3 linked regions of the Homo sapiens genome follow. The protein of the gene in region 3 purifies or fractionates together with the protein of the main gene of each other region. This does not show direct contact. Each region holds a gene or a part of one and is shown on either strand. Other genes may lie near its edges.

Region 1 (4,126 bases), on a different chromosome or scaffold from region 3:
GTCCCAGCTACTCGGGAGGCTGAAGCAGGAGAATCACTTGAACCCGGGAGGCGGAGGTTACAGTGAGCCAAGATCACGCCACTGCACTCCAGCCCGGATAACAAAACGAGACTTCATCTCAAAAAAAAAAAAAAAAAGTAGCTGGGCATGGTGGCGGGTGCCTGGAATCCCAGCTACTCAGGAGGCTGAGGCAGAAGTATCGCTTGAACCCAGAAGGCGGAGGTTGCAGTAAGCCGAGATCGCACCATTGCACTCCCACCTGGGTGACAAGAGCAAGACTCCATCTCAAAAAAAAAAAAAAAGAAAGAAAAGAAAAAAAAATTCCCCTCTCCTTGAAGGGAGGTAGGAGACCCACCTGATCCCTCAGCTTCCACAGATGGCTCTTTCTCACCACCCTCACACTTACACACACTTGACTATGAACTCCACCATGTGGGGGTGGAGGGATTGTGTCTGCCAAAGTACATCCACAAAGCCCAGCCTAGCACGTGGCACACTGTGTGTGTTCAATACATGTTTACTGGGTTTATTTTATTAATTTAAAATAGAGACGGGGGCCAGGCGCAGTGGCTCACACCTGTAATCCCAGCACTTTGGGAGGCCTAGGTGGATGGATCACCAGGTCAGAAGATTGAGACCACTCTGGCCGACACGGTGAAACCCTGTCTCTACTAAAAATACAGAAAAAAAAAATTAGCCTGGCTTCGTGGCACACCTATAATCCCAGCTACTCGGGAGGCCAAGATAGGAGAATCACTTGAACAGGGGAGGTGGAGGTTGCAGTGAACCGAGATCACACTACTGGCACTCTAGCCTGGGAGACAGAGCGAGACTGTCTAAAAAAAAAAAAAAGGGAGACAGGGGTCTCACTATGTTGCCCAGGCTGGTCCTGAACTCCTGGCCTCAAGCAATCCTCCTGCCTCAGCTTCCCAAAGTGCTGGGATTACAGGTGTGAACCACTGCACCCAGACGTTTACTGGGTTTAAATCTGAGCCCACCCCACTCAGGGGTACAGGATCTGGTTCATTTATCTCCCAGAATGATGCCTTGGGTTGCGTCCCCTCTAAACTCTGGCACATTCCAGCCCCTCTTTGGGAGAAAGAACATCTCTTCTTGCCCAGGCCCTAGTGAGACATGCATCGCAAGACATGCTCCCCCCTTCCTCCCCGCTGGGCTCCAGCTGCTGCCAGCCCTCCAAGAAAGGAGAGGCCCTGAGTTGGGCTATTTTGGTATCTGGGGTGGGCACCCGCAGGGCTAAGGTTACCTTGGTATGTTAAGGGCTCCCTGGGGCAGGACTATATAACCCCAGAGGGACTGCCCCATGCTGACTCCTTGCTTCTTTCCAGCCGGAGCCGCTGCCTTGCCCCCCGGAGACTGAAGACATGGTGAGTGAGAATCCTCCAACCCCTGCCCAGATCCCTTAGACCTCAGGGCAGCCTCACCCTTTGAAAGAAAGTAGCTGGTTCCCAGTCCAACAAAAAGTTAAAAGGATGCTCATCTCTTTCTCGGCATCACTGATGGAAAACAGACTGTGTGATGGCCTAAAGGATCCAATCAATGATAATCCGCCCAGACATTCAACTCACAGGGGCCCAGTCCCTCTCAAAGCCTGATCCATTCATTCCTGTACTCCATCTTCCTAAGGCCCTCTGGCACCAGCCAGGCAATAACTCCCATCCCATTTTACAAATGAGAAAGTAGAGGCTCAGGCCAGGTGCTGTGGTTCACGCCTGTAATCCCAGCACTTTGGGAGGCCAAGGTGGTTGGATCACTTGAAGCCAGGAGTTCGAGACCAGCCTGGCCAACAGGCGAAACCCCGTCTCTACTAAAAATACAAAAATTAACTGGGCGTGGTGGTGCATGCCTGTAATCCCAGCTACTACGGAGGCTGGGGCATAAGAATCGCTTGAACCCGGGAGGCAGAGGTTGCGGTAAGCCGAGATCGCAGCACCGCACTCCAGCCTGGGTGACAGAGCAAGACTCTGTCTCAAAAAAAAAAAAAAAAAGAAAAGAAAAGTAGAGGCTCAAACAGGGCAAATGAGTGGCTGGGGTCACACAGCAAGTCTGAGGCTCAGAGGAGCTAGGCTCAGGACACTGAGAAGATAAGGAAGCTTCCACCCATTGTGGGGGATGGAGAGTTGGAGACCCAGGAGCCACAGACGGGAATTTGGGGAATGCAATCAAAGCAAGCCCCCTCAGCAAAGAGGTCCCAAGGAAGGGGAGACTCAGGCCAAAGGGCTGCTTTAGGAACAGGGACTCGAAGAATTCTGACTCTTAATCCATTGCCCCCAGAGAGGTGGAGGGACTGGTCCATGGGCCCCTTTGTTCAACCCTCACCCTCCAGGCACCCAAGAGGGCCAAGAGAAGGACAGTAGAGGGCGGAAGCTCCAGCGTCTTCTCCATGTTCGACCAGACTCAGATCCAGGAGTTCAAAGAGGTGGGTGAGGGGACGGGGAAACTGGAAGGCTGACCAAAAGCAGCCCTGCTGGCCCTCTCCCTGGAATGTGCACCTGCTTGAAGGAGGGGAAAGGTTTAGAATTCCTTCCTCCCCTCTCTGCTTGGGGTGGAAGAGGACAGTTGGCTGAGAGCCAGCATCTGATCCTCCTGGGGTAGGGATGCTGAGGCTGGGCCATGGGGGACCTAACCCTCCCCACCACGGCCCTCCCCAGGCCTTCACTGTGATCGACCAGAACCGTGATGGTATTATAGACAAGGAGGACCTTCGGGACACCTTCGCAGCCATGGGTGAGCCCCCTACCCCCAGGTGGGAATATTCAAGGCTGCAGAGTCTAGGAAATTCAGTGGCCTTGGGTTCCAGCCCTGTCAGCTCCACCTTGGGCCTCAGTCTACCCAGCTGAAAAATGAATGGGATCAGCTGAATTAGTGGGAAGCGCAGGCCCGGCCCCAGGAGCCTGCTCCAGCCCATGCTTCCCCCAACCCCCTCCAGGCCGCCTCAATGTGAAGAATGAGGAGTTGGATGCCATGATGAAGGAAGCCAGCGGTCCCATCAACTTCACCGTCTTCCTGACCATGTTCGGGGAGAAGCTCAAGGGTGAGTGGAGTGTCCTGGGTCCAAGGCCCCGGCTGCCTTTTCCCAGACCCTTCAGGGACCCATCAGCTTCATGTGCCCTCTGACCCCCACAGGTGCCGACCCTGAGGATGTGATCACCGGAGCCTTCAAGGTCTTGGACCCTGAGGGAAAGGGCACCATCAAGAAGAAGTTGTAAGCATCGGCTCCCCCACCCTTCCGACCCTTCCCCCACTCCACCAGCTGCTCCCACACTGACAGCCTCCTTAAATTTCTACCAAGGCTGGGCCCTGTGGCTCAGGCCTATAATCCCAGTGCTTTGGGAGGCAGAGGCAGGAGGATTTACTTGAGGACAGGAGTTTGAGATCAGCCTGGATAACACAGCATGACCCTGTTTCTAAAAACTTAACTAAAAAATTCGTGGGCTGGCCGGGCACAGTGGCTCATGCCTGTAATCCCAGCACTTTGGGAGGCCAAGGCGGGCGGATCATGTGAGGTCAGGAGTCCAAGAACAGCCTGGCCAACACGGTGAAACCCCGTCTCTACTAAAAATACAAAAATTAGCTGGGCGTGGTGGCGGGCGCCTGTAGTCCCAGCTACTAGGGAGACTGGGACATGAGAATCGCTTGAACCCTGGAGTCGGAGGTTGCAGTGAGCCAAGATCACGCCACTGCCCTCCAACCTGGGCGACAATAGCAAAACTCCGTCTCCAAAAAAAAGAAAAAAAAAAATTCGCGGGAGTGGTGGCAAACACCTATAGTCCCAGCTACTCCGGAGGCTGAGGCAGGAAGATCCCTTGAGCCCAAGAGTTCCAGGTTGCAGTGAGCCGTGATCAAACCACTGCATTCCAGCCTGGGCGACAGGGTGAGACCCTGTCTCAAAACAAACAAAAACCCAAAAATTCCTACGAAGGGTTAGGCACTGCCAGAGGTAAGGGAGTAGTTAAGATTGTGGTAATGGGCGGTAAGATTGCATTTTCACAGCAAATGTGGGCGGAGAGGGCAAAAGCGAGTGTCTGGGAGGCCAATGAAGGAAGTAGAGTGACCTGGGTTTTCAGGGGAGGCTGGGGCTGGCATCGGGGATGAGGTGCGAGGGAGT
Region 2 (4,025 bases), on a different chromosome or scaffold from region 3:
CGGCTCTAAGTGACCAATCTCAAGCCAGCTTTGTCAGAAATCCTAAATAACAGGAGAAGGGTGGGAAGAAAGGATATGATTATTTCTTATTCCATTTTCCATAAGAGGTGAGAATGACAAGGACCTCTTTTCTAACTCCTCTTGAGGGTGTGAGAAGGGTTAGCAGGAGGAGAAGGGCTGGGAGCTCTGAGGTCTCCTGTAAGACCTCATATCTCACAGGCAAGGACTAAGAATTAGGATTAAATATTTTAGTGGGATAGCTCTAAACCAGGATTAGCAAGCAAAGTTAGGGCGCAAATTCCTGGAATCTGACTGGGACCCTGGCAGTGAAAGCTGGGACTGTTGAAAACCCAATTTAAGTGTTCGCTACTCATGTTGAGAGTGCAGGGCCAAGATAACTAGATCCCAGGACAGGCAGTTTGGCAGTGAGAACAAAAGGAAGACACTGGGACCAAGGTGCCTAGATCCCTCGAGAGAGAAGGGTGGGTATTGGGAGGAAAAATGAGGACTGGGGAAACCCAGGAGGCTGGGTTCTGGAATAGCAGCAAGTCAGAATTTCAGGATCTCTGTTCGTCCTCCTCTTCCTCTTCCCTCTATCAGGCAGAAGAGAGGGAAGGAGGGGGCTGGAGAAGTAGCCACATGGATACATTTAGGGCCAGACAGACACAGGAATGCTGGAGGAGAGAGGGATTTAGTGCTGCATTGGCCCTGGAGGGGGCTGGGAAGGGTCAGGAGGCTGGGGAGGGGTGGTGGGGGTCGGTCCTAGGGTTGCACGACGCCGTCCTTTGCGGTGGCCACGTACACAGTGTGTATGACCACAGCCCTCTTCTTCCTCCTCATCACTTTCCGTGGAGCTCTCGCCAAAGGCCCGAGGTTTCTCATAAATACAGCAGCCTAGATTTAGAGGGAGGAGCCCAGTTAAAGAGGAGGAAGGGTAAGATATATAGTCAGTTCCATTCCCACTCAAACTCAGTGAAAATTCCTATTTTCTCCTACCTTCCAGGATCCAGCTTCCCCAGGCCCACCCTCTGGGACTCAGGCCCCACCCCTCTTGTCCTCTTAGAGAGCCACGAATTCAAAGCCCCACTTCTCCCACCTCTGACACTTCTTGCTGTCAGACCTAGGCAATTCCAGTTCTAGCCCTTCCCTACCTCTTTCCCTGATACCACAGCACCACCAAAAAAGTGACAGAACTATGAACATCTGGGGGCTTCTGGAAAGCCAGTGGATATGAGTAGATACAAGATATGCTGAAGGGAGCCAGAACTCCAGGGCTACTGCGGGCCAACAATTACTCACATTTGGATGAGCGGCGGCCCATGTGTTCATTGTCCACAGTGTCACTTGTCCATTCTACCTTTTTCTCTGGCTTCCGTTTCCGAAGTTTGATGGTAAGGCTCCGGTTCTCCTAGAAGGTTAAGGATGAGCATACCTATCTAGTCCCCTCTTACTAACCTTTCCCACTCCCTCCCAGGGAACCTCCTCTCTTTTCTTCTTTAGCTCAATCAGTACCATAGGCATAGCACCAGAGGAGCTGACAGAAGATAAAACAGAACAGGTCTTTTACCTCAGATAGTCCCTTGAGGAATAAGTATTATTTCCTGTTCTTATACCACCAGTATAAGAGAAGACACAATTCCTAACCTAGGAAAGGTCCCAGCAACTCTTCAAAGGAAAATATAATCCTTGCTGTTTCTCCGTCTTCCTCCCCAAATCATCCTTGGTAGTATTAATACATGAAAATTATTTTTCAGTCCCCAGCACCTAATCTTTGATCTCCCTTCCTTTTTCCAGATCCCCTATTCTTTTTCTCTTAAAAAAACAAACAAAACCTCTCTCATTCTCAAGCTCCAGCCCTCCCTACCTCTTATCCACCTATTCTCTGGCATCCTGGCATCTCTAGTAGCAAGTATTACTAATCTATTAATTACTAAACTTCCTTTAATCCAAGAGTATTAAGCCCAATGCAACCTTCTCCCTTTGAAGGCAACTTAACATGTTTTTGGATAAATACTTCTTGTTTCTCCATTTACATCTTTGCTCTCTGATTTCTCAAAATACCTCTTTTCATCTCCTTTTCTTGTTTCCTCATTCCTGCCACTTCCTTTTACATTCATCCATTCAATAAATATTTATTCGAATATCAATATTGATAATATTGATAAGTTGGCCTCCAACCATGCTTTCTTACACTACCTTTGATTTCCTCCCAACATCTTCCTGGCTCCTTAATCCTCAATTTCCCTTTCGTTTATTACTTACACACATAACCACCCCAAGCAGCAACACCTATATCCTAACTGTACCTCCCTATTACAAGTTCCTTGACCTGCCTCCTGCACCATCTCTGCCACTCCAAATAGCTCCAATACCTTCCGATTCTCCCAGCCCTAGATATTCAACCCCACACCTCCCATATCCCTAGGCCTAGCTCCTCCAACAACTCTTCTAATCCCTGTCCCCTCCCTCCCAGTATCTCCCAGACCCCTAAACAGCACCGCCCCCCCGCCTTTCTCACGGGCTCGGTTGTCACGGTAACCGTTGTCTCAGTGACGGTCTCGCTCAGCCCAGCCCCTGCCTCGGCCATGGCTAAGGCTCAGGACAGGGAGGAGAGGAGGAAGGGGGATGAGACACCCTTCCCTTTTTCTGTCGCTGAGGTCTAAGAGAAGCGGTATCGGATTCAGAGTGGTAGCCAGGATCCTCCACCTTCTTTATTCCCCCTCCTCCTGGGCCTCCGCTTCTCCACCCCTGGGGATAACCTGGCTAACCCCACTTCCGGCTCGCCGCTTCCGGGTGTGACGCATACTGCAGTCCCCCTTTTTCCCTTCCACGGCACCAAATGCGTCAAAGCGCAGGCGTCGCTGGATTAGTTCCGCCGTAACGTGACAGCGCGCAGGCGCTGAAAGAAAGAGAAACAAATTTGGCGGAAGGGGTGTCACTGCGGGTGTGGGTGGAGGAGGGAGAGTCTGGGGCAGCACGCGTACTCACAGCCTAGAGGAAGCAGGAGGGGCGCCCAGATGGGTATTGCCGGGCCAGACGCTGCAGAGTGGGTGTGGCGAGGGCGGAGTTGTGTGCACCAAGCTGAGTCCTGCTGCAGATTTCCGTTTGCCTTGTCTGGGTAGGTGGACCGGCGAGGAAGCTTAAGGAGCAATAGTAATGACCCTACCGTGGCCTATTTCCCTTTCCTTGTTTGGTCTGGGTTTCTCTAAAGAAAACGGGAAGTGGGAGCAGTTGGAAACACACTTAAGAGTCAAGCGATGTGGTTCTACCCCTCGCCCTGTGCCTGTAGGTGTTTGAGCAGTTCAGTTTAGTGCACGTTCAACGTCAGTTTTTTTCAGTCACTGTGCTACGCCTTGAAGATGGAGGCGCGTAAGACGCTCAGACCCTGCCTTTTAGCTCTAGTAGGAAAGACAGGCATGCTGAAAACTAACAAAAATATGAAACACTGGGGCATTAACAAATGCCATGTCTGATTTGTAAATCTGAATGTAGTTACATACTGCCAACATATTCGTTCTCTCTGGGGTGATGAGTAGGATGAAGCAGAGAAATGGTCGTAAATTACAGTATAGGCTATTTTATAAAAATATATGCACGTTTCTTAGAGAGCAAAAGAAAGTGGTAAAACAAGAACCAGGAAGGCCGACAAGTAGGTTTTTTTAGAAGAGCAGCTTAAAAAGTTGTAGATGTGTGCACTACAGGAAATGGAGTTTTGTACCGCTTGGATCTGAGGGAGTGCCAGATGAAGCTTGACAGGTAGGCAGTGGTTATATGGAAGAACCTGTATGCTTTGCTAAGAAATTAAGCTTAATCCAATCACTGTTATGGGCCAGAGAAAGGCTTAAAGTAGGGTAGAAACATGAACAGGTTTGTTTCAGATTTCAGGAGTGGGTCAGGAAAGTCAACTGCCAGAACAGTTCAAACGTACAGTGGGGAAGACTGCCCTGCCCATTCTCCAGGTTGCTGTGGGGGTCAAACAAGATAGCTATGTTTGAGAGCTCTGAATATATATAAAGGGCCACACA
Region 3 (4,963 bases):
TGCCCCCTTGGGCCTCCCAAAGTGTGGGGATTACAGGCATGAGCCACTGTGTCCAGCCACATTTAATTCTTTTGTTTATTTATTTATTTATTTATTTTTAGACAGAGTTTCACTTCGACATCCAGGCTGGAGTGCAGTAGTGCAATCTCAGTTCACTGCAACCTTTGCTTCCGGGTTCAAGCGATTCTCCCGCCTCAGCCTCCTGAGTAGCTTGGGACTACAGGCGTGTGCCATCATGCCTGGCTAATTTTTGTTTTTTGTTGTTTTTTTTTTTTACTCACTCTGTCACCAGGCTGGAGTGCAGTGGCGTGATCTCGGCTCACTGCAATGTCCGCCTCCTGGGTTCAAGCGATTCCCCTGCCTCAGCCTGCTGAGTAGCTGGGACTATAGGCGCACGCCACTATACCTGGCTATTTTTTTTTGTATTTTAATAGAGACGGGGTTTCACCATGTTGGCCAGGATGGTCTCCATCTCCTGACCTCGTGATCCACCCGCCTCAGCCTCCTAAAGAGCTGAGATTACGGGCATGAGCCACCATGCCTGGCCAATTTTTGTATTTTTAGTAGAGATGGAGTTTCACCATATTGGCCAGGCTGGTCTTGAACTTCTGACCTCAAGTGGTCCACCTGCCTCAGCCTCCCAAAGTGCTGGGATTCAGGCATGAGCCACCGCACCCAGCCCTATTTAATTCTTAAGATGTAGTTTTTATATTCAGATTCTTATACACTTATTTTAAATTTTTGTTTATAGATTTTAAAAAAGAAATCAGACAGTCTCCCAAGTCAGAAGAGTCTCAGACTCCCAATTTATTAATTTTTTTTTTTTTTTTTTTTGAGACAGGGTCTCACTCTTACCCAGGCTGAAATTCAGTGGCACAATTATAGTTCACTGCAGCCTTAAACTCCTGGACTCAAGCAACTCTCCTGCCTCAGCATCCTGACTAGCCAGGACTACAGACGTTTGCCATGATGCCTGGCTAATGTTCTTATTTGTAGTAGTGACAGGGTCTCACTGTGTTGCCTAGGCTGATCTTGAACTCCTAGCATCAAGAGATTCCCACCACCTGAGCCTCCTAAAGTGCTGAGATTACAGGGGTGCACCACTGTGCCTGGCCTAACGTAAGCATTTTAAAATACCACATTCTTAGTAGTCCAAATCTATTTTGACTGGCCTTTCCTGTTAGTGGACATGTTCCATAAAACTCAGTCTTCTCTGTCTCCTGATTGATTTCATCACTGCACTTTTTGGGATAGTATTTGAGAAGATGTTCGGTAAACTGTGATATGCTATATCAATGTAAGATGATGGTGATAGTTGGAAGTAGACCGAAGAAAAATGAAGGCAGTTCTTTTCATCTGTTCATTCTTGTGCCAACTTTATGCTGATAACTTGGATATTTGTCAGATGGCTTTTTTTATTCTCTGCAGTATAGTACATGACTTAGGTTCATTCATGTCATATGACTGTGATACATTTGTAGCAGCTCACTCAATTGATATAAATAAATTTTAGTTGGTTCATTTGCATGTTACTAAATTTATGATAGAAAATGACTGCGGTAATGGTGACTTTGTGGTGTCTCCATGTTAAAATTAATTTTTACATCATAATTCTATGCCATGCTTACAATTAGTAATTCAGTTTGTTTTTTCCTTATTAGTCCATAAAATTGTGCTACTAGAAACTGTCATACTGATACTGACACTTTTGTCATTAGTTTTAAATCAGTGGCTTGCACACATTGGTGGGTGGTTCAATAAGTATATAAAACATTTTTTTTTAAGTTTTTGTTTTTTTGAGATGGAGTTTTGCTCTTGTTGCCCAGGCTGGAGTGCAATGGCGGGGGCTCAGCTCCCTGCAACCTCCTCCTCCCAGCTTCAAGTGATTCTCCTGCCTCAGCCTCCCAAGTAGCTGAGATTACAGGTGCCCACCACCATGCACGGCTAATTTTTGTGTTTTTAATAGAGACAGGGTTTCATCATGTTGGCCAGGCTGGTCTAGAACTCCTGGCCTGAGGTGATCCGCCCGCCTCAGCCTCCCAGAGTGCTGGGATTACAGGCGTGAGCAACTGTGCCGGGCTTTTAAAAAGTTTAATTCGTGAAATCAAAAGTAAAATTTCATAATCATGTCAAAATTAGGACTTTTTAGATTAAGTCTGAAGATGTTTCTTTTTCTTTTTCTTTTTTTTTTTTTTTTGAGACAGAGTCTCACTCTTGTTGCCCAGGCTAGAGTGCAGTGGCGTGATCTCGGCTCACTGCAACCTCCACCTCCCAATTCAAGTGATTCTCCTGCCTCAGCCTCCCAAGTAGCTGGGATTACAGGCATGCGCCACCATGCCTGGCTAATTTTTGTGTTTTTAGTAGAGACAGGGTTTCACCATGTTAGCCAGGCTGGTCTCAAACTCCTGATCTCAGGCGATCTGCCCACCTCGGCCTCCCAAAGTGCTGGGATTACAGGCGTGAGCTTGAAGATGTTTCTTACCAATCTCTATAACAGATTATGGTGGGGGATGAGGAAAGAAAAAGGAGTATAACACTGTTGTATTCTTAGTATCTTCAGTCCTCAGAACAACCTGAGGGGGATAATTATGTCCATGCTATAAGTTAGGCAGCTGGGACTCAGAGAAGCTAAATAACATATACAAGGTCACCTAGCTCAAAAGTGATGTAGCCAGTATTCCAGTAAAACTCAGTTTGAATTTGAGGTCTATTCTATCTTCATTCTCTTTTGCTGTCATAAAACAAGTAAAAGCAATTTGTCAGTACCTTATAACTGTAAAATGATGGAAAAAAGTATTTGTAATTTCCTAGAGAACAATAACCTATTACTGGAAACTCAGTGAAATCCTTTAAGTAAGACTTCTCTTGTAGCTTTTTTTTTTTTTTTTTGAGACAGAATCTCTGTCACCCAGACTAGAGCACATTGGCGTGATCTCCCCTCACTGCAACCTCCATCTCCCTGGTTCAAGTGATTCTCCTGCCTCAGCCTCCCAAGTAGCTGGGACTACAGGCGTGTGCTACCAAGCCTGGCTATTTTTTTTTCTTTTTTTTTTTTTTTTTGTATTTTTAGTAGAGACGGAGTTTCACCATGTTGGCCAGGCTGGTCTTGAACTCCTAACCTCAGGTGATCCGCCTGCCTTGGCCTCCCAAAGTGCCGGGATTACAGGCATGAGCCACCACACCCAACCCTCTTGTAGCTTTTAGAAGAAATTTATTTGCCAGGCATGGTGGCTCACGCTTGTAATCCCAGCACTGTGGGAGGCCGAGGTGGGCGGATCATGAGGTCAGGAGATGGAGACCATCCTGGCTAACACATCGAAACCCTGTCTCTACTAAAAATACAAAACATTAGCCGGGCGTGGTGGCACATGCCTGTAGTCCCCAGCTACTCGGGAGGCTGAGGCAGCAGAATCACTTGAACCCAGGAGGTAGAGGTTGCACTCCAGCCTGGGCAACAGAGCAAGACTTCATCTCAAAAATAAATAAATAAATAATAAAAATAAAAATAAGTTTATTTATAGCCGGGCGTGGTTGCCCATGCCTATAATTCTAGCACTTTGGGAGGCCAAGGCAGGAGGATCACCTGAGGTCAGTAGTTTGAGACCAGCCTGGCCAATGTGGTGAAACGCTGTCTCTACTAAAAATACAAAAATTAGCCAGGCATGGTGGCACATGCCAGTAATCCCAGCTACTTGGGAGGCTGAGGCAGAAGAATCACTTCAACCTAGGAGGCGGAGGTTGCAGTAAGCTGAGACCTCACCACTGCACTCTAGCCTGGGCAACAGAGCAAGACTCTGTCTCAAAAAAAAAAAAATTATTTGTATAAATGTGTGGGGTACAAGTATAATTTTGTTACATGGATATATTGTACAGTAGTAAAGTCAGAGCTTTTAATGTATCCATCACTGGAATAATTTCTCATCATCCCCCCACCCCCACCCCCACCCCCACCCCAAGGATCGCTACTCTTTGCTTTGCACTTGCTGCACACTGTGAAGGATACAGGAAATGTGTAAGTCATGGTACTTATCCTCAGCGATGTCAGATCTGGTAAAGAGAGTGAAAAGAAACAGTAATAAGCAATATCACACAATATGATTTAAATGCCAAAAATCTAAATGCTTAGGAGGAGACTATTACTAAGGGTCTAATATTTCATCTTTATGGTGGAAATGGATCTTGAGCTGGGACTTAAAGGATAGTTAGGATTTGAATGCCTAGGACGATGATTACAATGTGAACAAAGTAGTAGAATGAACATGTTATGCTTTTGAGATAATGAAGACCAGATCTAAACTATGGAAATATTTTATTTTATTTTTATTTTATTATTATTATTACTGTTTTTGAGACGGATTCTCGCTCTGTTGTCCACGCTGGAGTGCAGTGGCATGATCTTGGCTCACTGCGACCTCCGACTCCTGGGTTCCAGCAATTCTCCCACCTCAGCCTCTTGGTAGCTGGGATTACAGGCGCCCTCCACCATGCCTGGCTAATTTTTTGTATTTTTAGTAGAGATGGGGTTTCACCATGTTGGCTGGGTTGGTCTCGAACTCCTGACCTCAAGTGATCCGCCCACCTCGGTCTTCCAGTGTGCTCGGATTACAGGCATGAGCCTCTGCGCCTGGCCTATTTTATTTTATTTTTTGAGATGAAGTTTTGCTCTTACGCCCAGGCTGGAGTGAAGTGGCACGATCTTGGCTCACTGCAACCTCCACCCGCCGGGTTCAAGCGATTCTCCTGCCTCAGACTCCCGAGTAGTTGGGATTACAGGTATGCGCCACCACACCCATGCGTGGTTCGCCGTGTTGGCCAGGCTGGTCTCGAACTCCTGACCTCAGGTGATCCACCCACATTGGCCTCCCAAAGTGCTAGGATTACAGGCATGAGCCACCATGCCTGGCCTATTCATTATTTTTTAGTTGACAATAATTTTATATATTTATGGGATACATTGTGGTGT

What was found.
Region 1: the proteins of UBXN2A (region 3) and MYL11 purify together in Homo sapiens (affinity purification with mass spectrometry, with the first as the bait; one large-scale study listed by BioGRID). This does not show direct contact.
Region 2: the proteins of UBXN2A (region 3) and PPP1R11 purify together in Homo sapiens (affinity purification with mass spectrometry; 4 studies listed by BioGRID and IntAct, with this or other methods). This does not show direct contact.

Annotation. Positions count from the first base shown.
Region 1 is NC_000016.10:30,373,476-30,377,601, forward strand, and holds the start of MYL11 (myosin regulatory light chain 11), read left to right. Parts: upstream 1-1,326; 5' UTR 1,327-1,382; coding exon 1,383-1,385; intron 1,386-2,344; coding exon 2,345-2,437; intron 2,438-2,669; coding exon 2,670-2,745; intron 2,746-2,947; coding exon 2,948-3,052; intron 3,053-3,144; coding exon 3,145-3,223; intron 3,224-4,126. UniProt on the Homo sapiens protein: Myosin regulatory subunit that plays an essential role to maintain muscle integrity during early development. Plays a role in muscle contraction.
Region 2 is NC_000006.12:30,065,973-30,069,997, reverse strand, and holds the start of PPP1R11 (E3 ubiquitin-protein ligase PPP1R11), read right to left. Parts: upstream 2,801-4,025; 5' UTR 2,588-2,800; coding exon 2,519-2,587; intron 1,409-2,518; coding exon 1,300-1,408; intron 895-1,299; coding exon 692-894; 3' UTR 1-691. UniProt on the Homo sapiens protein: Atypical E3 ubiquitin-protein ligase which ubiquitinates TLR2 at 'Lys-754' leading to its degradation by the proteasome.
Region 3 is NC_000002.12:23,946,074-23,951,036, forward strand, and holds part of UBXN2A (UBX domain-containing protein 2A), read left to right. Parts: intron 1-4,963. UniProt on the Homo sapiens protein: Acts to repress the ubiquitination and subsequent endoplasmic reticulum-associated degradation of CHRNA3 by the STUB1-VCP-UBXN2A complex in cortical neurons.